Regions from separate parts of the Homo sapiens genome. Here region 1 is linked to region 2. Evidence: fine-mapped QTL for protein levels in blood plasma. Region 2 holds a variant in brackets. A gene starts in the other region. All regions are shown on their reverse strands.

What was found. PIP is the posterior inclusion probability: the model's chance that the variant is causal. The UK Biobank Pharma Proteomics Project read protein levels with antibody pairs (Olink). The fine-mapping took linkage between variants from a reference panel, not from the people measured, so its PIPs are less certain.
Region 1: it holds the start of ERMAP, and the variant in region 2 is fine-mapped to the plasma level of the ERMAP protein (UK Biobank, PIP 0.97).

The regions. Positions count from the first base shown.
Region 1 is chr1:42,808,971-42,824,440 of GRCh38, reverse strand. ERMAP (erythroblast membrane associated protein (Scianna blood group)) reads right to left here and starts at 7,319. Exons shown (of 12, transcript NM_001017922.2): 1 at 7,188-7,319. It overlaps SVBP (small vasohibin binding protein), which reads left to right and starts at 7,044. Exons shown (of 3, transcript NM_199342.4): 1 at 7,044-7,251; 2 at 7,861-8,010. The coding sequence starts at 7,897. RefSeq lists silencers at 6,901-7,190, 7,341-7,540, 8,101-8,170.
Region 2 is chr4:144,094,776-144,109,302 of GRCh38, reverse strand. LOC105377460 (a long non-coding RNA gene) reads right to left here. Exons shown (of 11, transcript XR_002959803.2): 5 at 13,929-14,006; 6 at 5,789-5,987; 7 at 5,208-5,287. Among named protein-coding and RNA genes, the nearest start is that of GYPA, 39 kb to the left of the region's middle. The variant G/A (reference allele first, on the strand shown) is at 4,330.

The DNA of each region.
Region 1 (15,470 bases), not on the chromosome of region 2:
GTTTCTCTCGTCCCTTAATGATAGAAATGTGGGTTGTTTCTGGGCTTTAGCTTTTATAAATAATACTGTCCTGAACATTCTTTTTTTTTTTTTGAGACAGAGTCTCGCTCCGTCGCCCAGGCTGGAGTGCAGTGGTACGATCTCGGCTCACTGCAAGCTCCGCCTCCTGGGCTCATGCCATTCTCCTGCCTCAGCCTCCGGAGTAGCTGGGACTACAGACGCCCGCCACCACGCCCAGCTATTTTTTTTTTTGTATTTTTAGTAGAGACGGGGTTTCACCGTGTTAGCCAGGATGGTCTTGATCTCCTGACCTTGTGATCCGCCCGCCTCGGCCTCCCAAAGTGCTGGGATTACAGGCGTGAGCCACCGCGCCCGGCCTCGTGCCCTGAACATTCTTGATAGGTATTTCCTGCTCACATGTGCAAGAATTTCTCTAGAGCACCAGTTCTTAATGTGTGGTCCACAAACACTTGAAGTCCCTGAGGCCCTATCATCCAGGTTAAAACTACATTCATCATAATAAAGACGTTATTTGCCTTTTTCACGGTATTGACATTTTCAAGGACACTGCAAAAGCAATAGTGGGTAAAACAGCTAGCACAAATCAGGAAGTGGCACCAAACTGTAGTAGAAGTTACAAATTTTATTAAATTTCAACTCTTAGATACACATCTTTTTAATAGTTTGTGTGACAAAATGGGAAGGATGCATAAACAGTTACGCTGCATATCAAAGTATGATGACTTTATCGAGGAAAAAACCTTAAGTGATTGAGTTGTGAGCTGAAGTAATCGCTTGACTCATGGAGCACCATTCTTACCTGAAAGTACAGCTGAAAGACAAAGTATAATTATTCAGACTTGGGTATTTGGCAGGCATTTTCTCCAAAATGAATAAAGTGCACCTGTCACTTCAGGAAAAGCAACTGACAGTGTTTGTTGTCAATGAGAACATTCAATCTTTTGAGCAAAAATTAGAATTTTGGAAAATTTTTATCTGCTGCTTGATACCCTCACAATAGCAAAAGACTTTTCTGATGAGATTGGCATTGATATTAATAAATGTGATTTTTTGATGTTGTATAATGAAATGTGTCAACATTTAGAAGATCTGTAAAACTCAGTGACTCAGCAATTTCCAAATGACCAATGGGTGTGTTGACAAAACCCTGCATGGGTAAAACATTCATTTAAAATGCAAGAAAAAACTGTGAGTGTTGCTGTAATAGAGTATAAAAAGGTCATTGCTATGGTTTCAGATTTCATGTCACAACTAAGCTTTAAAAAACTACCACTTGCTGAGTTTTGGTGTCTTATCAAAGAATATCCACGATTATCTGAAAAAGCTACTGAAATGCTCCTTTTCCAATTGCATACACTTCAACCACAAAACATACTGCAGCAGATTGAAAGATATAGCTGGCTTGAGAATACAGCTGTCTTCTATTAAGCCAGACATCTAAAATATTTATAGCCATTAAAAAGAATAAAATCCCATCATTCAAAGTGACATGGATGGAACTAGAAAACATTACGTTATATGAAATAAGTCAGGCACAGAAAGTTAAACACCACATGTTCTCACTCATAGTTAGATGTTAAAAAAAAAGAAAAAGTTAATCTCATAGAAGTGAAAAGCAGAACAGAGGTTACTAGAGGCTGGAGAGGGAAGGGGAGGATAGGGAGAGATTTGTTCAATAACACAAAATTACAGCTAGGTAGGAGGAACAACTTCTACTGTTTTATAGCACTGTAGGATGACCATAGTTAACAATAATATATTATGTAGTTTCAAATAAAGAAGAAAGGATACTGAATGTCCCCAAAACACAGAAATGATAAATGTTTGAGATGAATATGCCAATTACCCTGATCTGATCACTACACATTGTATGTATCAAAATATTACTCTGTACCCCATAAATATGTACCATATGTGTCAATTAAAAATTAATTAGGGCTGGGTGCAGTGGCTCACGCCTGTAATCCCAGCACTTTGGGAGGCTGAGCCAGGCGGGTCACCTGAGTTCAGGAGTTCAAGACCATCCTGGCCAACATTGCGAAATCCTGTCTCTACTAAAAATACAAAAATTACCCAGGCGTGGTGGCACACGCTTATAATCCCAGCTACTCAGGAGGCTGAGGCACAAGAATTGCTTGAAGCTGGGAGGTGGAGGTTGCAGTGAGCTGAGATCACACCACCACACTCCAGCCTGGGCGAGAGAGTGAGACTCCATCTTAAAAAAAAAAAAATTAATTTTTTAAAAAGGATTTATATAAATATAAAGCAGTGCTACTCAGTAATATTTTTGTTTCAAAAAAGTTGCTTTTCATAAATATATGTTTTGTTGTTATATAATTTATTATTTTTATTTTTAAAAGTAGTAATTATATTTAATTTTTCTTAGTTTTCTTTTTTTTTTTTTTTAGAGCTAGGGTCTAGCTCTGTTGCCCAGGCTGGAGTGCAAAGGCACAATCATAGCTCACTGCAGCCTTGAACTCCTAGGCTCAAGTGATCCTCTTGCCTCAGTCTCCCTAGTAGCTAGGACTACAGGTGCATGCCACCAAGCCCAGCTATTTTTAAAAATTTTTTTGTAGAGATGGGGTCTTACTACGTTGCCCAGGCTGGTCTCAAACTCCTGGCCTAAAGTGATCCTCGCACCTTGGCCTCCCAAAATGCTGGATTACAGGCATGAACCACCACACCCAGTCAGTTTTAATTTTTAATATGGAAAATTTCAAAAAATATAACTCATATAAACTGAAGCTCCCTGAGGTCCTCAATAATTTTTAAATGTAAAGCGTTTCTCAGAATATATACCTAGAAGTAGTATTGCCAGGTTATAGATGATACTAAATTGTTTTCCAAAGTAATTGTACCAATTTATAACTTGTCATAATTAATATTTTTACTGCTTTCTCCAGAAGCATTTTATCAGATAGTCTAAATCACATCATAAAATGAGTTTCTTATCTGAAATGTTCTTTTTAGACTTCTAACTCTATGAGTGAGAAAAACAGATACAGACATAGATAAAGATATCACTCATAATCGTAATCTCAGAATCCAGTAATAATCACTGTAATTTTTTTGGTCTATATGCTTCCTGACTTAAAAAGAGGGAGCTCTAGATTTCCAGTTAAATAAACATGTCTCATTGAACACAAATGCTTATCTCTGTTACCTCCCAAAATGATCTAAAATGACAATCTTGGAGTGCAAAAGGAAAAGCCTATAAGGACAAAGAGAACAGGACAGTAAGTAACTGTGCAATAGAGATGTCAATACATTTCTTTAATGAAGGAAAGCAGAGGGCTCACTAGTAATAGAGCTAGGAAAAACTGAACTCTAACCCAGGTGCCTGCAGAGGGAGGCAGGATTGGGGGAAACATCAGATAAAGGGTTCCTGACATCAACCCTTGACATCAGCAAGAAGAAAGCTGATTCTCAACTGAGAACCTTCCAGGCTTGGGATGGGAGGGACCAGGGCCTGGCTCTACCTCCCGGGGTTGTTGTAAGGATTAAATTAGCTAAAACATGCAAAATACTTAAAATAGGGGCTGATACTCAATGGTAGCTGTTATTGTCTGAGGATAAGCTCCAACTTGAAAGCCAGAGACCAAAATAAACAACAGAGACAATCTAGGAAGCAGAAGAAAACAGCAGAAAATTACAACTGGAATCCTCAGAAATATGAAATAAGAGAAGATCCTGAATCCACAACATAAGAGCAAGAGGCTACCAAAAAGGAAAGTCGGGGATCAAACAAAAACTCTTGGAAATTAACATTTTTGTAGCAGAAATGAAAAAATTCAATAGAAGAACCAGGGGATACAGCTCAGGAAAATCTCTTGTAAATTAGAATAAACAAAACCAGGAAATGGAACATGAAGAAAAATTTAAAAACAGGGAAACTGGCTGGGTGCAGCAGCTCATGCCTGTAATCTGAGTACTTTGGGAGGCTGAGGCAGGAGGATCACTTGAAGCCAGGAGTTCAAGACTAGCCTGGCCAACATAGGGAGACCCTGTCTCTATTTGTTAAAAAAAAAAAAAAAAAAAGAGAAACTGATCACAGAGAACGTTTCCCAGAATTGAAGACTTTGTTTCCCAATTGAAAGGGGCCACCGAGTGCTTAGCATAATGAATGAAAAATACTTAAAGGACAGTTTGTTATGAACGTTCAGAACATCAAGGATAAAGGAGAAAAATATCCTAAACAAATTAACAAATTAACAAACAAAATATATGGGAAGTAACACAAGTCAGAATAAATCAGTCTCCTCAAGAGTAGCCACATGAGAAGCTAGATGACAATGAATCAATGCCGTTAAACTTCTGAGGGAAAATAATTTCCAATGTGGAAATCTGTCACTCAAGGATGAAAGAAAATAAAGCCATTTTTAGACAAGCAAGGACTCAAAAATTTAGCTTCCATGAACCCCTTCTGGGGAGTTAGTGGAGAACATACTCCTCCAAAATGAGAGAATAAACCAAGAATGGAAAAACATAAGATCCAGAGAGCAGGGGATTTGGCACAGGAGAAACAAGAAGAGAATCCCCAGAATGTGGTTAGGTCCCTAATCCTAGGACAAGAGCTGTGAAGCAAGGCTAAGCAGAGGAGTTTGGAGCAAAGAGAGGATGAGTCTAAGGAGGGATGCTGCCAAGAAAAAAAAAAAAGACACTGGTAAATGACCTGGTTCACATCTGTAGTACCAGCCACTGAGGGGCTGAAGCGGGAGGATCACTTGAGCCCACCTCTGAAAATAAAAAATAAACAAGGGATGCATAGATCATTAAGCAAATAAAAATAGATAATTTTTTGACTCTAGAAAAAATATTATTCAATAAAGTGAATATAATCTTAGTGTAGTATATACCTCAACTGTAAAAATATTCTAGTTATATTACTATAAACTCTTGCTAGTCATTCAACAAACCAGGAAATTCTGCAGCCTGGCCAAGAGTCCACTGGTAGACACAAAAGAGACAGACAAAGCATAAACTCATGGAAAGAATAGAGAGGGGACTTTGACAGTGTTCAGCCTCAACATTCACTCCCTCCTGGCTCCAACCTTCACCTTCCCAATAAAGAATGTAGAATCCCAAACTGGTATCTCCAGTTCCGTTCTTTTCTGAAATCTTCTAATTGCTCACTGGACAATTCTTCTTGCCTATTGCCACTTGAAGCGTAATCTAGCTCTTTCTCTCTCTCGGTCCCTCTCTTGCGCGCGCGCACACACACACACACACACACACACACACACACACACGCTCCTAACTTATCCTCTTCCTCACCGTTTCCCAAACCAACTCATCACACCTTCTCCACTTTCAACAGTGGCTCAGTGGCACCACTACTTTTCCAGTCTTCCATGTGGCTTTTCCACTCCTCCATTCCCTATAGCTGGTTTGTTTTTAGCTGGCTTCTAAAGGTCCTGCCGTGTCTTCAGCTGTAATCTAGTTCATAGCTTATATGAACGTTATAAACCATACCATGTGACACAAATGTAAAATACCAGTACTACATCAAGATTTCTGAAATAGACTCTGACTTGGTTACTTTTATTAATAATAATCGAATCAGCATTTGTATAGGGTTTTTAAAAAGACATTTAATGTACTTTCCTCTGATTGCTAAAGTATAAACGTTTACTGTAGAAATTTTGGAAAAGCTGGGCGCAATTGCTCACATCTGTAATCCCAGCACTCTGGGAGACTGAGGCAGGAGGATCACTTGAGCCCAGGATTTCCAGATCACCCTGGGAAACACAGTGAGACTCCATCTCTACAAAAAAATTTTAAAAAATTAGCCAGGCATGATGGTGTGTGCCTGTAGTCCCAGATACTTTGGAGGCTGAGGTGGGAGGATTGCTTGAGCCCAGGTTACAGTGAGTTATGATCACACCACTGCACTCCAGCCTGGGTGACAGAGCAAGACCCCATCTATTTTTTAAAAATTAAATAAATAAAAAATAAACATTGTGCAGTAGATCTCTAGAACTTTTTCACCTTACAAACCTAAAATTCTATACCCTTTAAACAATTCCTCTTTTCCCTCTCTCCTAGCCACTGGCAGTCACCATTCTACTTTCTGTTTCTTAGACTTTGATTGCTTTAGATACTTCATATGAATGGAAACATGCAGTATTTGTCTTTTTGGGGCATTGTGCTCACTTTTAAGGCTTTTGATACCTAGTACTAAACTGACCTCCAGAAAGGCTGTTAACGATTTACAGTTTGACTGGAAGCGTGTGTCCATCTGGGCTGAGTTCATTGCTTGCTTAGCATCTATCAGTTGTTTCAATTCTTGCCAGTTTGATAGAGGAACAAATAGTGGACCCAAACAGGGTTTTACTTTGGATAAGGCCATTGTCCTATGAATCCTGGCTGAAATATTTGCTCCAGCACTTAGAAGCTGTGTGACCCGGGACAACTCACTTAACTTTTCAATGCTTCTGTTCCCTTATGTGTAAATGGGGATAATAATATACACGTATACATTATACACACTTATTATGAGGAATTAGTTAATAAATGTGAAGCTGTAAGAACAGTGCCTGGAATATAGTAAGCCCAAATGTAAGGTAGCTATTATCATTTTTGTCAATCCTTGCTAATGTAATACCTGGAAAATTACAGCCAGCTATTTTAATTTACATCTCCTCGGTAATCAGTTGAACGTGAATGTTCTCTGTATTTATACTGGCTATTGGTACTTCTGTCAAGATTTCCTTTTTCAAAGCACTGTGGCAAACGGGATCTCACTTGATCCTCCCAATAAACTCATGAATGAAGAAGGTGGCAATCATCAATCCCCACTTTTCGAATTAAGAAATTGAGCCTCGGAATTCGAATTCTGAGCAATTCCAATTCCAGGATTCGGATCTCACCCTCTAAAACCTAGTAGCTGTTGCAGAAAATATAACGGGAAAAAGCTTTGGTTAGCCGTAACCACCACCCACCCCGGTGTGGCTCCGCCCCTGCCCCGCCCCGGCACCGGCTTGCCCCGCCCCGCCCTCTACGCGGGTTTCCAGCCATCCTCTCTGCGCACGCGCGGCCGCTCCTGCGGGCGGAAGCCTCCTGGCGCTCGGCCCTGCGCCCCTCCCCCCGGCGCGCGGCCCCGCCCAGGACGAGGGGCGGTGGGCAGGCAGCGCTGGGTCCAGTGGTCGGGGGAAGGCGAGGATTACCCTCCCGGAGGCGTTGTCTGCGACTCGGCGGAGGCTCCAACTTCCAGTGGCCCGGTCGGGAAAGGTACAGACTCCCAAGCCTCTTGGTCGGCGGCTCCAGCGACCGCCATTTTCCTCCAGGAGAGGGAAGAGGGCAGGAGGCGGGGGCCGTCCCCTGGGGCCGGGCGGGCCGGGGCGGGGTCGGGGGGCCGGGCGGTGGGGGGCGGGCCCGGCTGGCTATGGGGCCCGGCCCCCTGGCCCCAGGAGCGGCTGCTGCGGCGGAGTTAGGCCGGCCGCAGTGGGAAAACCCTGGGCGCCCTCTGGGTCTCAGCGTCCCATTAGGACGGTTCCGCGCTGGGTGCCGCACGCCGCACAGTGGGCAACGCTTTCACAGGGGTCTTTGCATTTCACCCGCACACAGCAGCTCCTGGAGGGAGGCCAGGAAAACACTTAACCCATTTTGCAGACAGAAAACTAAGGCTCAAAGTGGGGAGGAGACTTGCCCAGGGACACCCAGCGAGGTTGTGGCCTTGGGACTCGGTTCCTACTCCCCCACATCCAGCGCCCTTGCCACCAGACCACTCTGCCTCACCTGGCAAAGGATGGGGCGGAGCTAAAGGATTAGAGGAGTAACTGGCAGGGTATTTTTTGTTTTGTTTTGTTTTGAAGATCTGCCTCTTTCTGTACCACCCAGATCAGAGCCTCCTAAGAAATATCCAGAAGTCAAGCCATGGATCCACCTGCACGTAAAGAAAAAACCAAAGTTAAAGAATCTGTCAGCAGAGTTGAGAAGGCCAAACAGAAATCAGCCCAGCAGGAGCTGAAGCAGAGACAAAGAGCAGAGGTGAGATTAAGGCGGAGGCTCTGTATGCCTGTAGTCTGCTGGAGATGATGCTGGAATAGAGAAACAGCAGAAAGGAGAACTGACAGCGAGCCATACTTGCCTCCAGGCAGGATGGGTGTTCTCCCAGGTTTAGAGGGGACAACACTGAGGTTCAGAATGGTGAGGTGGCAGCCCAGAATCACATGCCAAGTTAGTGTCAGAACCCCAGTCTGGTGCGGAGCTTTTGTGGTAAGAGACCCAAGGGAAGGAAGAAAGGAAAAAAAATGATATGTAAGGGGAAAGAAGGGGTCAGAATGAGAGAGAGCACGCAAGTGTCAGACACCCCCAGTACAGATGTTCTGGATTTGGTGCGGAAAGCAGCTACTCATGCCAGGTAGAGGCCCAAGCTTTAAACTCACCAGTGTGTTCCTTTGTTCTCTCAACGATTACAATCAACTTGAGAATAAAAAGCTTTAAACTTTACCCTGCCAATATTGAGCCACATACAGACATAAGTATTTTATTTTAGTATTTAATGTCAGGGAAAATCTTGCTGGTCTCTTTTTCCCTCTTTGTTTTGTTTATCTGTCTGCTTTGTTCATTTCCTGTCTTACATCCTTTTACTTCTCCATGGACAACTACTTTTTTTTATACTTTTACATTCAAATATATTAATAGATATCCTTGAACAATATACAGTAGTATTTTAAATTTTTACATTAATAAAATTCCTGCATTTTATTTTGCATTTTGCTTACATTGTTTTTTAGAACTATTCATGCCAATATAAGAATTTAGTTTATTCTCATTAATTTTTATAATAGTCTATTTTATGCATCCATTTTACTTAGTATATTTATTCATTCTTACAGAGATGCACATTTAAATTATTTATAGTATTTTTTGCTATTACAAACATTGCTGTAGTGAAAAGCTTTTAGGTGTCTCCTTTGGCACCTGCCTTAGAATTTCTGTAGGTTATTTAACTAGAAAAATTACTGGGTACATTCTCAATTTTACTAGACATTGCCACATTGCTTTTTTTTTTTGAGATGGAGTCTCTTTTTATTTTTTATTTTTTATTATTATACTTTAAGTTCTAGGGTACCTGTGCACAACATGCAGGTTTGTTACATATGTATACATGTGCCATGTTGGTGTGCTGCACCCATTAACTCGTCATTTACATTAGGTATATCTCCTAATGCTTTCCCTCCCCCCTCCCCCCACCCCACAACAGGCCCTGGTGTGTGATGTTCCCCTTCCTGTGTCCAAGTGTTCTCATTGTTCAGTTCCCACCTATGAGTGAGAACATGCGGTGTTTGGTTTTTTGTTCTTACGATAGTTTGCTGAGAATGATGGTTTCCAGCTTCATCCATGTCCCTACAAAGGACATGAACTCATCCCTTTTTATGGCTGCATAGTATTCCATGGTGTATATGTGCCACATTTTCTTAATCCAGTCTATCATTGATGGACACTTGGGTTGGTTCCAAGTCTTTGCTATTGTGAATAGTGCCATAATAAACATACGTGTGCATGTGTCTTTATAGCAGCATGGTTTATAATCCTTTGGGTATATACCCAGTAATGGGATGGCTGGGTCAAATGGTATTTCTAGTTCTAGATCCTTGAGGAATCACCACATTGTCTTCCATAATGGTTGAACTAGTTTACAGTCCCACCAACAGTGTAAAAGTGTTCCTATTTCTCCACATCCTCTCCAGCACCTGTTGTTTCCTGACTTTTTAATGATCGCCATTCTAACTGGTGTGAGATGGTATCTCATTGTGGTTTTGATTTGCATTTCTCTGATGGTGAGTCTCTTTTTTTTTTGAGACGGAGTCTTGCTCTGTCACCCAGGCTGGAGTGCAGTGGCGTGATCTCTGCTCACTGCAACCTCTGCCTCCCGGGTGCAAGCAATTCTCCTGCCTCGGCCTCCAGAGTAGCTGGGATTACAGGCGTGCACCACTGCCTTGGCCTCCCAAAGTGCTGGGATTATAGGTGTGAGCCACTGCACCCGGCCGATATTGTCAACTTTTAATTTTTGTTAACCTGATTCATTCATTAAATATTGGCCAGGCACAGTGGCTCACACCTGTAATCCCAGCACTTTGGGAGTCCGAGGCAGGCGGATCATGAGATCAAGAGATTGAGACCATCCTGGCCAACATGGTGAAACCCTGTCTCTACTAAAAAAAAAATTAGCTGGGCGTGGTGGTGCTCCCTGTAGTCCCAGCTACTCGGGAGGCTGAGGCAGGAGAATTGCTTGAACCCAGGAGACGGAGGTTGCCGAGATTGTGCCACTGCACTCTAGCCTGGGCGACAGAGCTAGACTCTGTCTCAAAAACAAAAAAAAAAGAAAAAGAACTGCTAGTATGTGCCAGGCACTGTTCGAGGAATTTGAGTCACATGATGACAAAGCAGAAAAGAATCCCTGCCTTCATGGATCTTGCATTCCAGCAAGGGGAGGCAGTAAACATAATAAGTAAACTTACTAGTGCATTTGAAGTTAATCTGTAAACTGAAATCTACCTTTGGGTTAAGGCAGACCCCCTGAGAGCTGTGGTCCTTTACCTTCCCATTCCCACCTGGATCCGGGTCCTCAGATGATATGACTGCATTGTGCTTTGGTGAACAATATGAGGGTTGCTATAAGAAACAGCCCTGAAGCAGGAGAACAGAAGCTACAGATAAGAAAACCATTGATCAGAGAAATGGTGATATAGCCAAGGGAGCTCTCACTGGAGGAACAGAGCTATCTATACTTCCGTGTACAACAAATGCTCTGGGAAATGGAGAACCAGTTGCCAGCCCATATGTGGTTACCTCACACCAATCAAAAGTGACTGTGGAGAGCACCCCCAATTTGGAAAACCAAATGAAAATGGAGTATCTCTGTTCAGAATGAAAATTTTGAAGAAATTATAAATTTACCCATTGGATCGAAACCATCCAGATTAGATGTCACTAACAGTAAGAGCCCAGAAGTTCCTTTGAATCCAGTTTTGGCCTTTGATGATGAAGGAACGCTTGGGCCCCTGGCTCAGGTAGATGGTGTTCAAACACAACAGACTGCAGAAGTTAAATGCGTATTTTTTCTGAAGAACCAACGTCAAAATTTAACGAGAATTTCTATAATTAATGGAATTCCTTTCATGCTATAAAAGAGCATCCCCTCTTCCAGTTTTCTAAAGATTTCTTGACCATCATTTTGAAAAGATTTATTTAAACTAGCTAAAGACAACAGACAGGATAGCTTTCCTAATAATTTTCATCAGTAGAAAAAAAATACTCCTCATTCTTCAGTACTTTCAAATGGCTTTTTCCAGTGTGCTCCTTCTTAGCAAATTAGTATTTTTCTGCGTTATTTAAAAGACAAGAGGATTTGGCTATAAAATGATTGACTAGGATTGACTAGGCATGATTTTTTTTCACATAGTTTGGTCTTAAAGCTTAACAGCTTAAAATTGGCAAAAAAAACTTGTGCCTTTTACCATGTAATACTTGAAAAGTAAGTACCTCTTTGCTACAAGTAGAATGAATAGGGAAAAGTTTAAGCCTGTTTTTTTAAAAATATTATTTTAAAGAGCTCTATTTGTAGAGGCAAATTATAGGCAGATTACCAGTTTCTTATAAATACAAACTTGTACATGGACATTCTGCAAACCCAGCTGTCATATTCTTGCAACTACTTTTGCAAAAGCATACTAAAAGGTTTTAAAATGTGAAAAAACATTATTTTTTCAGAGCAAGAAAATAATTTACTGTTGTCTTCAATAATGTGTAAAGTTTTTCCAGATAAACTAATCAAATAAATTAGAACAATGTGACAACATTGCAAATTTGTCATTAGATGCATTCCTTCTAACGTTACCAGGGGAGGATGTTACTGATGATTCAAGGCTGTTTCTGAAGTCTGTGTGTTGCTACTGTCCCCAGTGATGGTGGGACTTACCTCTGTCCTACTTGATCACAAATTATGTTAGGGGGAAATAAAGATTTAATATTTCATTAAATAAAAAAGAAATTTGGTTTTGCTCATTTAAGAGCAACAAGAAAATGGTGGTGTGTTGACTGTGTTTGGCCGCAGGGCACAGACCTTTATGGAAGTCCTCGCTCTGCATGGCATCCACCAGCTTTTCACCTTTCATTCTTATTCTTCACTTTTGCTGCTGAGCCTAGCTGTACAAATTTGCACTTTCATTTGCTAATGTAAATTCAATTTATTTTACCATTTTAGAGACTACTAATGATTAAATGTAAGAGAGGACACATGTTTTTATGTGGAGTGTTAAAAAAGATAAATTTATACCACTGTAATGTGCTGGATTTATTAAAAGAGATTGGTTAAACTGCTCGGTTGAATGAGAGACTTCCTCTATTGTACTCTTTTTTTTTTTTTTAAATCCAAGGATATTGTCTTTAGTAACAGCTTGTAACTTGTTAAAACATTAATTTGGGGTTTTTCCCTATTCTTAATTGTCTATGTACACATAGTAATTATGTTAAAATCCGTTTTTAAAAAAAACAGCCCTATGAAACTGTCCTCTGTGCATATTGTAAGGATAGATGTTGAGGACATTGTTCATGCCCTTATTGACACCCTTCTGTAAAGTTCTATAGGTTAAATTTATTTGTCTGACTTCAAATCTCAGCTCCTCCATAAATCCCAGTTCTTCCATGTGACGTTGGACAAGATACTTAACCTCTCTGAACCCCCAGTTCATCAGTTCCTCCTTGGTAAAATGAGGATAACATCTACCTCAGAAGACCATTAAAAGGAATAGAAATACCACGTGTAAAGCCCATAGCGCAGTACTTGGCAGAGGAAGCATTTGATAACTAGCAGTGATTATGATCAGGAATAATCTTGTGTTTCCAAGCAGGCAGCCTGCTCTTATTGTGTGGACCCTAAATTGAACAACTGCTGAGTTCCTGTTGACCTGCTGAAATGCAACGTTGCTGCACTCAAGCAGCAGCTGGCCCCGTGCAGCTCTTGAGATGTGCCAGGACCGAGCCAAGCCTACACATGCATAGCCACATGTAGTCCTCACACCAGGGCTCCAAAGCAGGAGTTATTGTGACTCCCATTTAACCTTGGTTAATCCGATATGTAAAATATATGGCCTTGTGAGGTAGGCAGTATTATCCTCACTTCAAAGGGATGTGAGTAGAGTCCTGTAGTTAAAGAGGGGCAGGCCTGTGGTCTAAACATCTTCTGACTTTTGTCTGTTGTTTTTTGCCTTGCCCCCTACAGCTGCCTTGCTGTTTTTTTTTCTGTTTGGTTGGTTGGTGTTTTTGTTTTGTTTTGAGACGGAGTCTCGCTCTGTCACCCAGGCTGGAGTGCAGTGGCACGATCTCGACTCAGTGCAACCTCCACCTCCCAGGTTCAAGCAATTCTCCTGTATCAGCCTCCTGAGTAGCTGGGATTACAGGCACCCGCCACCATGCCTGGCTAATTTTGTATTTTTAGTAGAGATGGACTTTCACCATGTTGGTCAGGCTGGTCTCGAACTCCTGACCTCAAGTGATCCGCACACCTCGGCCTCCCAAAGTGCTGGGATTACATATGTGAGCCGCCGCGCCTATCCTGTTTGTTTTTAATCTTTATTGCCTGGAATGTAATGCAACAAGACCCTTTGTGGGGAGGAAGAGACAGTTTCTATTCAATTCTGCAGACGCCAGATTCCAGAAAGTTAGATGTGAAGGAGAGATGTGGGAGGTGAATGGGAACGGAAGGCACATTGGCAGTGGAAGCACCGTTTGACACTGCTAGGGTCCGTTTCCTTCTTGACTGAGAGTCATTCTTTGGCCTGGACACCCTGACCCATTGTGAGTCTCCTCTTTCTCCTACCATCTTGCCTCCTTGATCTGGAGGTCTCTGAGAAGCTATTTAATTTGCATCTCAGTCCCTAGTACAGTAATGTGCAGATTAAAAATGCTCAGTAAATACTTAGTGAATGAAGCAAGCAGAGGTTTTCAAATATATATGTATATATGTGGGCCCGGGCACAGTGGCTCACACCTGTAATCCCAGCACTTTGGGAGGCCAAGGTGGGCAGATCACGAGGTCAGGAGATCAAGACCATCCTGGCCAACATGGTGAAATCCCGTCTCTACTAAAATACAAAAAATTAGCCAGGCACGGTGGTGCACGCCTGTAGTCCCAGCTACTCAGGAGGCTGAGGCAAGGGAATTGCTTGAACCAGGAGGCGGAGGTTGCAGTGAGCTGAGATCGGGTCACTGCACTCCAGCCTGGTGACAGAGCAAGACTCTGCTCACAAAAAAAATATATGTGTGTGTGTGTGTGTGTGTGTGTGTGTATGTATGTATGTGTGTGTGTGTGTGTGTGTTAAAAGTATATTTATATAATGTGTGTATGTGGCTTAAGAATAAAACACCCAACTATAGAACGTGACCAGTAACTGGGAAGCTTTGTGTACTCCTTTCCTGGTCATGTACCTCACCCTTCCCACCAGCAGTACCCTCTTTGCTGTATTTTATGCTAATCATTCTTGCTGTTCTACGTTAATTTACTGTCTGTGTACCTCTAAATATTTTGTTGTGTAACAATATATTGTTTTGAATGTTTCTGACCTTTTATATATGTTACCGTGACTGGCTGTCTTCACTCAGCCTTTTTTTAACCATTCAAGTTTATTTATTTTTATTATGGTAAAATATACATAAAATTTACTAGTTTCATCAGCCGCATTCTGTGTTTCAAGAATCATTTGCGGTAGTGTTAGTAACTATTTTCATCACTGTGTAGAATTCCATTTTTCTTAAAGATGACAGGAATATTCAAGCTTTCTAGTCAGTTTGGATCATTTTACTTTTCCTAGGAACTTGTTTCATTTAGGTTGTCAAATGTGTTGGCACGGAGTTCATAATGTTTCATTTTCATTTCTGTTATGTCAGTAGTTAAGTCTTCTTTCTAGTTCCTAATAATGTTTATTTGTGCCCACTCCCTTTTATGTTGATCTGTCATGTCAGAGGTTTGCAAGGTTTTTTTTAGTATTTTCAAGGAACCATCTGGCAGTCTTGGTGATCCTCTCTATTGTAGGTTTGGTTGCTTTTTCATTCGTTTCTGCTCTTTATTTTGTATTTTCTATTTGTCCCACTTCTAAGTTTCATTTTTTCCCCCTTCCTTGTCTTTTCAATTAATCAAGTTATAGCTCCTCTACACACACACACACTCTGTCTTTCATTTTTTTCTTCTACAAATTAGGAAGTTTTGTGATCTGTTTCTGTTCTTAGTGGGTGGATTAATTAAGAATAAAGAAAGATGATGAGGAATAAGGTGTAGTTACCCTGCCTTTCACCTGAGGATGTCTCTTGCCATCTTCTTTCCATCACCACTGCCTGCTGTAGACGATATTCCCACGACCTCCTGTCTGGACTGTTGTAACAGATGCCTCCTAAAGCACAGAAAGAATCAACGTTGCTTATGGCTGGGCACAGTGGCTCACGCCTGT
Region 2 (14,527 bases):
TGGATGGCTCATGTTGGATTTCTTAAAATTGGGGATGGGATGGGAAGGTTTGGTGATGCTGATTATGGAATTGTACTCTTCAGCCCTGGTTGTTTGCTTGTGTCGTTATGAGCAAAAGATCTAAATGAGGGAAAAAATGAATGGAGAAGGCTGAGAGGCATTGTGAAGAAAGAATGACCTTTTCTTGCAATAGAAATTTAACTCCAAAAACAACTCTGAACGGAGAGCCAAAGAACAGCATGGACAAAGGCGTATTTTGGTGATATTGATATATAGTGATTGAAGAATAGCCTTCTGGTTTATTCTAAACATATATCCTATCAAATGTAGCAAATTTCTTAGAAGAAATTCCTAAAAGCCAAATGTTATTTAAATAAAAATAAATAAATACTTTGACCCAAAGTGATGCATAGGCCTCTCACTGTGTCAACCAGTTCTAATGCATTTATGCCCTCAGCTGTATTTAGGGGGCATGTGCATTGCCAACTGCTAACCCACTTTCAGCATCTAGATGTAAACATCTCCTCTGAATCCTCACAGCACTTATGCATATTTTGTAGCATTACTACGATCTGAATTCCATACCCTTCTTAACTATGATTCATTAAAAGCAAGAACTTTAATTCATTTTTGTAACTCCTGAGAGGCTTAACAAAATTTGCTTCTTATTTCATGAAGCCTTTATTAATATTTAAAATGGCATGATACACAGTGACCTCTTAAAGGTTTGGTCTGGCGTGATGTGGACAGAGAATCAGATTTGGAGCCAGGATTTGAATCCTCACTATTTATTCACATAACTTTGGTTTCTTTATCTGAAATATGAAGATTAGAATAACTGCCTGGCAGAAATGTCACAAGAGTTATATATTTATACAGAAAAATGAAAAACAAGAAGAAACTATTAATATCAGTCCAAAAGGAAAAAAATTTACTCTCATGTAGTGAGAGATAATCCTCATGGCAGTCATGTGCAACTTTTGCAATTCTCTCCCGTATCTTCTTAAACCTGAAAAGTGTCTAGTTTATTTACATGTTGATATAATGTGTAGAGTGATATTCTCCACAACTGTTTCCCTCAGACTAAAGCCCCTGGATTTTTTTAAATTTTGCATAGAAACTAAACCAAGGTTAAACCATAAGGAGGAAGCGCACAAATGCTTTTTGATGGAAAGAGGTATATTACAGCAAAAGATGACTCAAACATGATTCTATACAAAATCTGCTTTTGTATGGGAAAATAAGCAGCTTTTCAGAACTAGCCCTAATTTATCTTTAAAGAATGTAAAAGTGCTTATATTGAATTTGTATATAGCTGTAGAGCTTAGTGTTAAGCCATAATTAATACAAGAGAAAGAAAAATAAAAGGATAAGCACAGTTATGTTTTATAAGTTTACCTGCAAGATACTATATTACTTGTCTGCAAAAGACACAACAGGTGGGTTCTCAAAATAGAAAATAAATCCAGCTGAGCGCAGTGGCTCACACCTGTAATCCCAGCACCCTGGGAAGCTGAGGTGGGTAGATCACCTAAGTTCCAGACCAGCCTGGCCAACATGGTGAAATCCCATCTCTACTAAAAATACAAAAATTAGCTGGCCATGGTGGTGCACACCTGTAATCCTAGCTGCTCAGGAGGCTGAGGCAGGAGAATCGTTTGAACCTGGAAGGCGGAGGTTGCAGTGAGCCAAGATCGTGCCACTGCACTCCAGCCTGTGTGCCAGAGCAAGACTCCGACTCAAAAAAAAAAAAAAAGAAAAAGAAAATAAAAAAAAAATCCAATTATGGAAAAAATACAGTCATAGTTTTGTACCCTGAGTTGTGATTATTCATTTTTTAAAATACACTTATTATTTCCTAATACCTTATTTACCCATGAAAAGAAATTAATTATTAAGAGGTATGATAATATTTGTTCTTAAACCTACACTTAAAATGTCAAAAGTGTGACCATAGAATGAGGGATCTTAAAATTGACAACTGGCTGAGCAGCCTGGAGTAAGAATGGTGTAAAATACTTGTGTATAGGTATCACAGCCAGGCCAGGAAATCATGAGAAAGGGAAGGTGAGAGTGCTCATCATCTGACTGATTATCAAATTTAGTATGCGTATGGTTCCAAATTTGAACACTGGAAAGTGATATAGACCACCTGGGATCATTTTTAACATGGAAAGCAGACTAGGCTGGATACATCAGCATAACCTGTCTGAACATAAAGTCATCACATGAAGGACAGCTGGAGGAGAGAGGGAGAGGAATGGAGGAAGAATGAGAAAGTGAGCTAGGTCCCGAAGAGCTGTGCATCCAGATGTGCCTAAGCAGACAAAACCTCTTCTCAGTTATGGGAGTCAATAAATCCCCTCTTTGCTTAAGCTGGTTTTTTTAAATTAGGCTTTTTGTCATTTATAATAGAAAGAGTCTTAGCTAAAGTAATAGAAAACCAAAATAGATGATCGGGCTGACACCTTATATCCAATAAAGACTGCATTCCAGGTTGACATATAAGACTTAATACAGAATTTCCAAAGGAAATGTCTAAAGATTGTACAATTCTAAAACTCTCACCAACAGTAAAAGAATAAAAGTGTAAGGAGTTGGTGACTGAACAAAAGGGAGTGTAGAGAGCTGTTTGTGTGTCTTCAAGGTCTCTCCTAAGGAGGAGAGGTGAGGAGGTTCTCTCTTCACTTTGTCAAGAGCTCTAGAGGGTCTTGGGAGAACTTGAATGTGTCCTTGGAATGTCAGAGAATTATGACTCTTACTTGAGATATCTAAAGGGCAAAAAAATGGCCCCAGTCCTGCCCTGAAAGTATATTAAGGAGATACTGGAAAGCTAGGGATGACAAGCATTCCTACAGTTTTAAGAGGCAGTGAAAAAATGAGTTTCCTGTGGGCTCTATACACACCAACTGCAAAAAAAAAAATGTTCCTGTGAGTTATCTTTTGTCATGTTGGAAATGACTTCCTAGAGAGGCCAATAACTTTTAAGAGAAAGAAAACAGAAGTGTTGCCAGACATCTAATACTTTGTTTACCCATGAGGGACTGAAGAAGGATGCAGGCAAACAACTGAAACAGACATGGATTTATACAAGCCAAGAGAATATCAGATGAAAAGTCCCAAGTGATGGGAAAATTCTGAAGAACTCTCAAGAATACCTATAAGAGGAAGGTTCAAATGTAAAACTCTGCCAAGAGAAAATGTGGGACCACTGTGAAATATTGGTCTAGTCGGACTTTCCTACTCCTTTACCTAGTTTTTTCCTTCCTGTGTTCCAGTGCTGGAGGGTTTAGAAACTTTGAGTGGCAAGATGGAAGAAAAGGAATAAATGCTCCAGTTTGGGGTTGGGGAGAAGTTGACTAGATCATTCCTTTCCTGAATCCAGGGAAGAGAAGAAATACAAACATTAATTTTAAATCAGAATGGAAATGTTGATTATTGCATTGGTATAGACATTTTAATTACAAACTGGAGAGCCATTTGTATTACCTAATGGTGACCAGAAGAGTAATGGGATGTTTGGGCAGAGGAACAATGCAAGGACCAGTTCTACAGAAGACATTTAAAAGGACACAGGAGCCATGACTCAAATTATTTCTAATTGAATTCTATGAGTCTTGTTTACTTAATACAACCATTATACAGATAGAAGTATTAATGTAGCAAAAGCATTTGTTGATGACTTAGATAAGGCATAATGGGAAAAAATACTTATACATTATTAGTAACTGTAAATTGACTCAGAAACAATAGAGCAATATATTCCAAAATTCACAAATTTGTCTATATATTTTTGGCCCAGTATTTCCATTTTGAAGAATGTGCTCCAGTAAAATTACAAAAAAGTGTAAATTATTATTTTGTAATTGACTTTACATATTAATTGCATCAACAAATAGCAAAAAGAAAATAACCCAAATGTTCACTAACTTAGTAATGTCTATGTGTCAGTTATAATTTACATATTAGCATATTAACAAAATAGACTATTATGTAGCCAATTAAAAAGTGCGTGTACACTTTGTCTACAAGTGAAAATATGTGTAGAAATGAATTTTTAATGAAAAAATAGAAAACATAGTATGATTATTCTGAACTAAAAAAATATGTAGTGCATAAATTTTAAAGCTCAAAAAGAAAAACTTCAACACTCAGTAGTTTCTTTCTTCTTGTATTTGTTCAAGAAATAGTGCCACGGACTTACAATGCAGTACTAACATTCCTGGTTGCTGTTGAATATTTCTAAGCTAGAGCTCTACTTCAAAACTGAAGACCAGAGACATCTTGGTATTGCCCCATGTTCATATCTCATGAAACATGCTTTTTGGG[G/A]TGTGTTTAAACTGTGCTGTGACTCTGCAGAAATAAGCCTTGAAAGCTGAAGGAGAAATGTTTCAAAGGGAAGGAAAGCCAGAAATATCTGTTTCCTAACTCAACAATAAGACAACTTAGTTCGTATACCTTGGAAGGAATGTGATTCCACTTTTTAAATGTGAAGTGTTTCTAAAACTTTTTTTAATATTAACACATATTAGAAAGACAAATATCACGTGTTCTCACTCATATGTAGGAGCTAAACATGTGGACTTCATGAAGACAGAAAGTAGATTGGGTAGATTGGTAATCACCAGAGGACGGGAAGGAGAGCAGGGAGGGGATGATGAAGGCAAAATAAAGAACACAATTGTGTTTATTACCACTGAAGTGTATATGCAAAATGGTAAAGATGGCAAATTATATATGTATATTTTACCTCAATAAAAATATAAACGGGGCTTAAAACCTAGATGACGGGTTGATATGGGCAGCAAACCGCCATGGCACATGTATACCTATGTAACAAACCTGCACATTCTGCACATGTATCCTGGAACTTAAGGTAAATAAATAAATTAATAATTAAATTTAAAAAACATATATATGTCAAATATATCAGTTTGACATAATATTAAGAGCAAGTGTGTATATAATCCTTCATCAGATTAATACGTTTTAATTCATAATTCAAATCCTAGTTTGAAAAATCGGGCTACTTCTCCATTTTAGCACCTGAGGAAGCAACAAGAGAGTGCACTCCCAGCAACAGAAGGCAGAAAAATGTGCCTCTGTTGTTTCTCCCTCAAAATAAGTCTGCTCTAGGAAAGAGTTTATTTCTAGAACTGTAATAGTCATCCTATATAGCAATGACCACGGTTCCCACCAGGACTTACCATGTGGTTTGGCTGTGTCCTCACTCAAATCTCATCTTGAATTGCAGTTCCCATAATCCCCATATGTAGTGGAAGGGACCCTGTGGGAGGTAATTTAATCATGAAGGTGGTTACCCTCATGCTGCTCATGCTGTTCTCACAATAGTGAGTGAGTTCTCACAAGATCTGATGCTTTTATAAGTGGCTTACCCCTTCGCTTGGCACTCATTCTCTCTCCTGCCACCCTGTGAAGAGGTGACTTCTGCCTTGACTGCAAGTTTTCTGAAGCCTCCCCAGCCATGGGGAACAGTAAGTCAATTACACCTATTTCCTTTATAAACTACCCAGTCTCAGGCAGTTCTTTATGGCAGCGTGAGAATGGACTAAGACAACTTATAAAGAAAACCTAAAAGAAAAGCAAATGAAGCCCTCATCTCTCACTGGGACCATCTGAGCAAAAGATATAGAACTTATAAGTTGCCACATTCTCTGACCCATATAGCTCTTCACTTCTAAAGCTAAACAGAATCCTCTAAAACATGATAACCATGTAATCAATTGTTTTTTGAAAAACCTTTAAGAATTTGTTTTTATTTACTCACCTCAAGGTTTTTACAAAACTTCCAATATATGGGAGATCCAGGTTCCCAGCTTTCTTCCCTTATTCTTGTTCAATACAGGTACACAGCATGACCTCAAGTATCATGCAATTTGTTCACGCTTCTCTTTCTTCCAATGTACCATGAAAGTCTTGACTGAGGCAATGACAGAGCACCTTCACATCTCACTCCTTCACTGTGTCTAGAATAGAGTCCACCGAAGTGATTATGTCATAGACCAGTTTACTCCTTTTGAAATCAAAACTACAACAGACCTAGAGTTTTTTTCTCAAGGATTCTGCAGACAGGGAAGTAAAAATAGTTTTCTTGATGATTTGAAGTTTCTTAAAGCAAAGTGACCAATGTTGGTTTTTGTATTTCTAGGAATGACTTTCCCCACAATTCCTCCACCAGGATTAAAAACTGGACTTGAAACCTAACTCTTCTGTCTGGTTTCTGCCCACTTGGCTAGCCCTATTCTTGTAAGCAGATACTTTGCTGTATCCTCAAGCCTTGATGTGCTCCCGATTCCACACCTACCCAGCCTATTTGCTGCTACCCACTTGACTTTGAGTATTTTCACAGCCTGAGATTATTGTTACTTTATCCCACCTAATTGATTGTATACAGTATTAACTAGGGCAATTTAAGTCCCAAAGCATAATTTTGTTTACACACAAGAAGTTTATTTCTTTCTCAGGTAATGGTACAGGAATATTACTCTAGGCCTGTGGGGAAAGTGATTATTCTTTCTATCATCATTTATGGATCTAAGCTGATAGCATGTAGCTCAAAGCCAAGAATTTTGGGGCATGTACTGTTTTCTCACTAGATTGAAATGCAGTTTCCCATGGCCAGAAAACCAATAAACTAAGAAAAGTAAAGTAATCTGCCCACTACCATACCCAAAACACATTGGTAGAGCTGGGCTAAGATATGGGCAATAAAAATTACCATTCAAAAGAGAGATTAATGTGAAACACACATCAGTCATAGGTCCGTGGCAATGATAGAATCCACTGGGCAAACATTGTGAAGACTCCTTCCCAGGAAGTAGAAGAAATGTCATTGTTCACCATGGCTCTTGGCTTTGCACTTTGAAAGTTACTTCCTTGGTCATTTAATTCTATGGCCACATTTAAGTGAGTGTTAGGCAGTGTGCCCTCACTGCAAGCTGTTCAGATTTTGCAACACATTGTCTTACGATGCTAGGTTTGTTTTAGAGAGGAAATAGGCAAAGGCTTTTCAAGTCAGTCTCATGATTACTTTGGCAATACGATTCCCTTAGAAACCTGTGATTTCTAATCAATTTGCTGATTTCTAATCAATTTCACTGAGCTCCATTTGCCTGACTACACCCAAAGTTATTTCAGAGACATAGTTTTAAATCTCTTTATTTTTTGAGCACTTGCCTTTAACTTAATGGCAGCTTCTTTGATGCTAGTGAAATAATGGGCGAAGATGAAAACTATATTCTCGTTGTGATCTTAGCCATAGGGCTGAGTTCCTTCAGTTAATGACAAGCATTGATATGTATTTTGCCTCTAAGTCTTTTTCAGTCTTATCTCCTACAGTTTTAGGACTAGATGTATTTGGCTTTTCTAACACTTTGATAGCTTTAATTTCTTCTGGAAAATCAGCCAATACCTTCCTGAACTCATTTTTTCTTACAATATTGCTAAAAGCAGTAACAGTCAACAAACACTAAAATGTGAGCTCTTTCTAAGCTCTCCTAAACTACAGATGCAGAAGATACGTAGTATTTTTTCAAAGTTATTGTAGACAAAACTTACTAAATAGCTTACCTCAGCATAGCATAAATAGGCTGCTTTCTAGCATTTATTATCTAATTCTTTATCTCCTGACACCCATATACTAACCTAATGCCATATAGGTCACGATTTTGTTACAGCACCTGATTTCAAACTGAATGTTCTTTTTCCACGGCAAAAGGATCTGCTAATACTCATAAGAAGCTTCTTGGGAGGCCGAAGCAGGAGGATCGATTGAGCCAAGGAGTTCGAGACCAGGCTGGGCAACACGGCAAAACCCCATCTCTACTACAAATACAAAAATTAGCAAGGTGTTGTGGTGCATGCCCGTAGTCCCAGCTATGTGGGAGGCTGAGGTGGGAAAGATCACCTGAGCTGGGGAAGTAGAGGTTGCAGTAAGGTGAGATTACACCACTGAACTCCAGCCTGGACCACCCAGTGGGACCCTGTCTCAAAAAAAAAAAACAGAAATTATTATAATAAAAGAGAAAACATGATACGCACCACTGGTTAGGTACTACCAGTCCTCTAGCAGTTGAGCTGAGGAAGAGAGATCATATTCAGCTATGGCTTTCAGGAGGACTTAAAGCGTTAGAGATTAGAGGGAGGCACTCAGACTCAGGGAAATGTGAAGCATATACTAGAAACATACATTAAAACATATGGGGCTCAAAAGTCGGAGACAAGGTTGGGAAAGCAGGCTTAAGTCTGGTCACAAGTCACACCTGATGGACTCTAGTGTAAATCATACTCCTCTACGTCTGGAGTATCCCCCTTTTAGATCAAGATGGCAGATGATCATTTGAGTTTATATTCTCTCTTTTCTAAGACTCCGTCTAAATTATAAAAACAAAATGAAAATAACAGAAGGGAAAATAACAAGAGATGAGTAAATTCAATAAATATTTGGAAAGCTGAAAGCAAATGAAAGAATTCTGACTGATGAAGTAGAAAGGGCCAAAAAGATGATTTGTACAATAAGGTTTCCCCCCAAGATTGAATGAGCTACCTGGAAAACACCAAGACTGCCAGTGTGAGTGTTAGCTTCTAGAGCATAAGATGAACAGCGGGGAGAGGTTGGAAGAGAAAATTGTTGCAGAATATCATAGTGGTTAAAAACATAGTTTTTATGGCCAGAGAACATGGGTGTGAATCCAAGTTTTGCCACTTACTAGTTGTGAGGTCTTAGACAAGTTAATTAATCTCTCTGAGACTTTTCTTATTTGTAAAATGTACTGACGATAACACTACCACCTTCTGAAAGAGCAATAGTGAGGATTGAGTTAATACTTACCAATCATTTAGAATGGTGCTTGGTGCACTGTTAGTGATTAATTAATGTTCATTAATAATTTTTATTATAATTCCTTATAATTTTGATTTCAAAAATATTTACAAGTTTCCTTTCCCCATCTCCCCTACCCCAGCAGCCTCTGGTAACCACTGTTACCCAACAGAGTTGTCCAGGTTCTTGGCATGTTGAACAAAGAATTGAACAAAATGCACAAAGTAACAAAAGAACAAAGCAATGAAAGACAAAGCAACAGAAGAATGGAGTAAGGAAAGCACAGACTTATTGAAGACCATTCACAGACTGGGAGTGGGCTTAAGCAAGGGGTTCAAAGCCTCTCCAATTGGGGTTTTCTGTTTTTGGGGATTTTTTTTTTTTTGAGACAGCCTCACTCTGTCACCCAGGCTAGAGTGCAATGGCATGATCTCTGCTCACTGCAACCTCTGCCTCTGGGGTTCAAGCAGTTCTCCTGTCTCAGCCTCCCAAGTAGCTGGGATTAGAGGCGCCCACCACCACGCCTGACTAATATTTTTGTTTGTTTTTGGTTTTTGTTTTTTTTTTTTTTTTTTTTTTTTTTTTGTATTTTTAATAGAGACGGGGTTTCGCCATGTTGGCCAGGCTGGTCTCAAACTCCCGACCTCAAGTGATTCACCTGCCTCAGCCTCCCAGAGTGCTGGGATTACAGGTGTGAGCCACTGTGCCCGGCCCCAATTAGGGTCTTTATAAAGCCAAAAGAACTTGGCAACACCCCTTAGGTACCCTTTAGAAGCCTCCAATTGGCTACACCCTATGAAGGATTGGCCTGTGACCAATCAGAGGCTGAAGTGGAGGCTTAGCTCATGGTCAAGCAGAGGCTGAAGTGGAAACTTCTGTCTTTTTATCACAGGAATGAGGATGTGGCCTGCATGCTGCCTGATCTTGCCTAGAACCAGCTGCACCTGCTGTTCTCTTGCTTATGCAGACTGGCTGCACCTGCTATTCCTTTGCTTATGCTCCAACCCTTGGCTATCCTAATTCCCTGTTTTCCTCCCTATTACTGTATTCTCTACTTCTCAATAAAAATAAAACAAAATACAAACCATTTGCAGGTATTATAGTCATGATTTGTTATTTCAAGTTATGTTTAAAATGTAAAGCCCATTACAGTAGGATAGATGAGAAGAAAGAAGGGTCTGAACAAAGCCAACAGCAGAGCACATGCAGAAGGGGAATGAAGACTTCAGCCTAGACTCTCATTAGGTGGTTGTCCAGGATAACATGAAGTCTCATGTGAAATATATTGGAAAAGAACAAGATTCAGTCAAGTACCCAAGGTGCCTGACTGCTGAAACGGCACTGTAATTTAAAAAGCAAAGACAAGTTTATCATACTGTGAGATCCTTGAGGGCAAGGACCAAGTTCTATTCAAATCTTTGTCAAAAACCAGATTTCTGATAGGCTTACTTTAGTACCCATTGATCTTAATTATAGTTCGCCTGCCAGGAGTTAAGGTCCCTCCTCAACAGTAAAGAGAATGACAGGCACAGGGGTAGGAGCACATAGAGAAGGGCCTGACTTTCAAATGAACTCTGGAGAGCACTCATCACCTCCAGGACACAGCAGATCTTACTGAGATGGCTGGGTCAGAAATCTCTGAGGGACCCCAGGATGCCCACACCTCAGAAAGGACAGGTAAAACCAAAGGACCTGGGGTCCCAATGTGCAGCATGTTTCCTCTTCTAGTACACACCAGATACATTCTGACTGCCTTATCCTTGGAGTCAGAAGGAGGAGTGTCTGAGGTCTCTTTTCTCCCATCCTAAAAACAGGACATAGAGCAGGCCATGGCCATATGCTGTATGCCTCCCCTAAGTGAGCAGTAAGAGATTGTCACAAATCTGCTATGTTCAGCATCTGCATTTGAATAAATGAATGTTATTACCTCTCAAGGTGACTGCTTTGAATGTATAAATTCTAAAGTATTTCAGAAACCTCAGACATTACAGTCACACCATGATAAAATCTGGTAGGTCTGATGACAAGGAATGGTGTTTGTTGCATATTTAAAAGATTGCAGACAGTTCTACATTAAAAGTTCTTTCTGTGGGTGAGGGGTTTGTGGGATGGGGGAGATGCCAGGATATGTATAGAGCTTAATTTCACTTGTTGGGATTATAGCTAATTTTCATCTTTTTCTTTATACTTTTTTTCTAGCTTCTTAATTTTCTGTAACAAAACTATATTACATTTTTAAAGAGACAATAACAAAAGCCATTAACTTTTTCAAAACTAGATATATATATACATATATATACATATATACATATAGCAACAATACAGTTGCTAGTACACATCTCCCTAACAGATAGAGTTACATTAGTCTACAGGGGTTTTACTTATAATTGACATAGTTACCCTAATCTATGCATTCTTTGACTATGTTGCGTGTCTAACATGTTCCAGTGACCATTCAATTGTGGATTACAGAGAACTGTCATTGTCCAAATTAGAGGCAAGAATTTCAGTCCTGTGCGAAGCATCCAAAAAGCTCTTCAGCACAGATAGGTTTAGGAATAAAACTGGAGATCTTTTGAGTGGTTCTCATTTTTATAAGCTTGGTCATGAACTTATCTGCCCCTTAGTTATTTTTAGAATTGATTTCATGCTCAGGTCAATCATTTCACAGTGAAGAATATACCATTTCTCAAACTGCCTTCTTTCCAAATTTTATGACTAGAGTTCAGCCTGAGTTCACACAATCAGCTGATGAACATCACTCAATGGAGCATATTAACTAGAATTGTTGTCTCCATCTGGGTCTCTTCCAAATGGTCTTGTCAAATGCTATCAGGGCATCATATATTAGAGAATATGTTATATCAGCCTCCACTTAAGTTACTCATAGATTGTCCTTGACACTTCTCATGGCTCTTCTCTCTTGTAGGTGGTATTATTGGTAACATAACTTGCTCTGACAAAAGCAAATGAAGGAAATTTTAGACCTTTATTATTCAACTGGATAAAACTGAAGGTTCAGAAGTGATTGCAAATATTGCCAACCAGGTGAAAATTATTTCCATTCTCAGCTGAACGCTATTACCTTTAAATCAAAAGTAATCACTTTAATGTAAGTCTTACCTAAGTCTATTAAACTTTTTCTAGGTCTACCAAAGCATAAAAATGCTGTATATTTTAATGTCCTCAGATTAAAGTATCCCCATCTCTGAATATTTTGAAATTTTAAAAAGTAATCACTAAAAGGTGACCAGCAGCATTTATTCTTACTAAAAAGAATGGATGAGATGGCATGGAATATAGTAACAGCCCCACAGCTTGTCTCCTTGTCTCTACTCTTGTTTTTTATATTCCCTCCTTCACAGAGCAATTTTTTCAAACTATCAATTAGATCATGTATTTCTCCTACTTAAAATCTCCAGTAGGTTTTTCACTGCACCAGAATAAAATCACCACTTGTTAGCATGCTCTCTGAAGTTCTGACTTGTCCACATGCTCAGCTCACCTGGCCTGCCCCCTTCAACCCTCTCCCACTCTCTCCTGTCATTAGGTTGCAGCCACTGAACTTTTCCCCAAAACTCCAACATACTAAGCTTGCTCCTTTCTTAGGAACTTTGTTCTAATTTTTTCTCCTTTTTTTGCTTCATATCTTTGTTTGACTGCCTCCATATTATTCCTGTCTCACACCTTCAAAGAAAATTCTGATGACTGTATTTTTCATCTGCTTTGTTTACTATGTATCCTCAGAGCCCAGAATAATGGCTAGAACACAGGAAAACTCAGGAAAATTTCATTGAATGAAATAGGTCTTCCCTGCCTACCCAACGCAAAGCAGCTTGTAGTCTTCTTCCCTCCTTCCCATTAATTTCTCTTTCATTTTCTTCCTGTATTTTTTTCATAGCACTCAGCTCCCAGGACTACCCTCTTTATTTGTATAACTGGTTATTGGCAAGTCTCAATTCAGTAGGGTAAAAAATCAATTTTTTAAATTTGCTTATACTGTATGGAATATACTTTTCCTATTTCTTATTCCTATTCACTAGAAACATTCTGGGGAGATAGGCAACTTTCTAGTCTTTTTTGTTATTAAAATTTCAAAACACCAATCTTACACATAAATGAAAGCTATACAGCTACTTTCTTTTTTCTAGGTTTTCATGCCTCTGGGATGGTGATTAGAGGAAGAAAGCAAAGAAAGGACATTTTTTTACTTCACTGTTCACGGTGTAATCGTGTGCCTGACGGCTGTAGCTACTAACTTGACTTACGTTGACTGGCCACTAAGGGACTCTAGGAGTCAGAATCTAAATGGTGAGTCTCTCAAAGGCATAGAGAGAATTTCAGAGGGCCTTACCATGACATGGGGATTAAACTCCAGTTCTGCCCAACTCTCATCTTGAAATCCTTATCCCATGCCTCTTTGTGTTTGGTGTCCCCTTGCCTAGGGGACAGTCTTCCTGGGTAAGATCGGCAAGATAACTCTTCAGTCACATTCCATTTGATCCTTTGAATACTCTGGGGTCCTTACCCACCAAATGGATGGAGTTCAGCTGCTCAATCACTGCCTTTCTCAGAACTCGGTTGTCCAACCACAATTCCCTTTCCCCTACTCACGTAGGGATAGGGCTAATATTGGCAAAATGCCGCCCAAACAGCCTGCTGACAGTAAACCAAATATTAGTTTCTCTCACCTTCTTGAAGACATTTAGTCTTTGTAAGCTTTTCTCCTAGATTTTCCCTTTCCTGTTCCTGCTTAGATTCTAAGAATGAAGTGCATCCTTCTCCTTTTCTTCATCAGGTGAAGTGGGATTTACCCATTACCATATATTCACCACCAGGTCACTGACGAGAGACTCCAGTGAATCTCTTTCCCTCTGCATTCCTCTCCTTGTACAGACTAGAGGGTCACATTGTGTAAAGCCAAACATAGCCCTGCAAAGAGATCTGGCCCCAGCAGTGAGCACAAACTCAGTAATTCTCTTTAGAGTGAGGCGGTAATCAGTGCCTCTTGGTTTCAGCCGTGGTCCTAGTGGCTAATTATGGAAGAACAGGAATAGTCTCACAACATCCTGTAACATTGGCTTACCTGTATATTATATGCCACCCATAACCATAAAGACACCAGGATTTAGGTTCCTTGAAGGTAATGACTACAGGTCCCTCTCTGTGGAAGAATAGTGAATAGAAGAGAGAAATCACTCAATATGTGGAATGACTGATATGGTTTGGCTGTGTTCCCACTCAAATCTCATCTTGAATTGTAGTTCCAATAATCCCCACGTGTCATGGGAGGAACCCAGTGGGAGGTACTTGAATCATTGCGGTGGTTTCCCCTATGCTATTCTCATGAGAGTGAATAAATTCTCACATAATCTGATAGTTTTATAAAGGAGCTTCCCCCTTCACTCAGCTCTCATTCTTCTCCTTCCTGCCACTATGTAAGAAAGATGTGTTTGTTTCCCCTTTGGTCATGATTGTAAGTATCCTGAGACCTTCCCAGCCATGCAAAACTGTAGATCAATTAAACCTCTTTATAAATTACACAGTCTTGGGAAGTTTTTTATAGCAGCATGAGACAGACTAATACAGTAAGTTGGTACTAGAGGTGGGGTGCTGCTATAAGGATACCTAAAAATGCAGAAGTGACTTTGGAATTGGATAACAGCCCGTGAAAGCAGCCGAGAG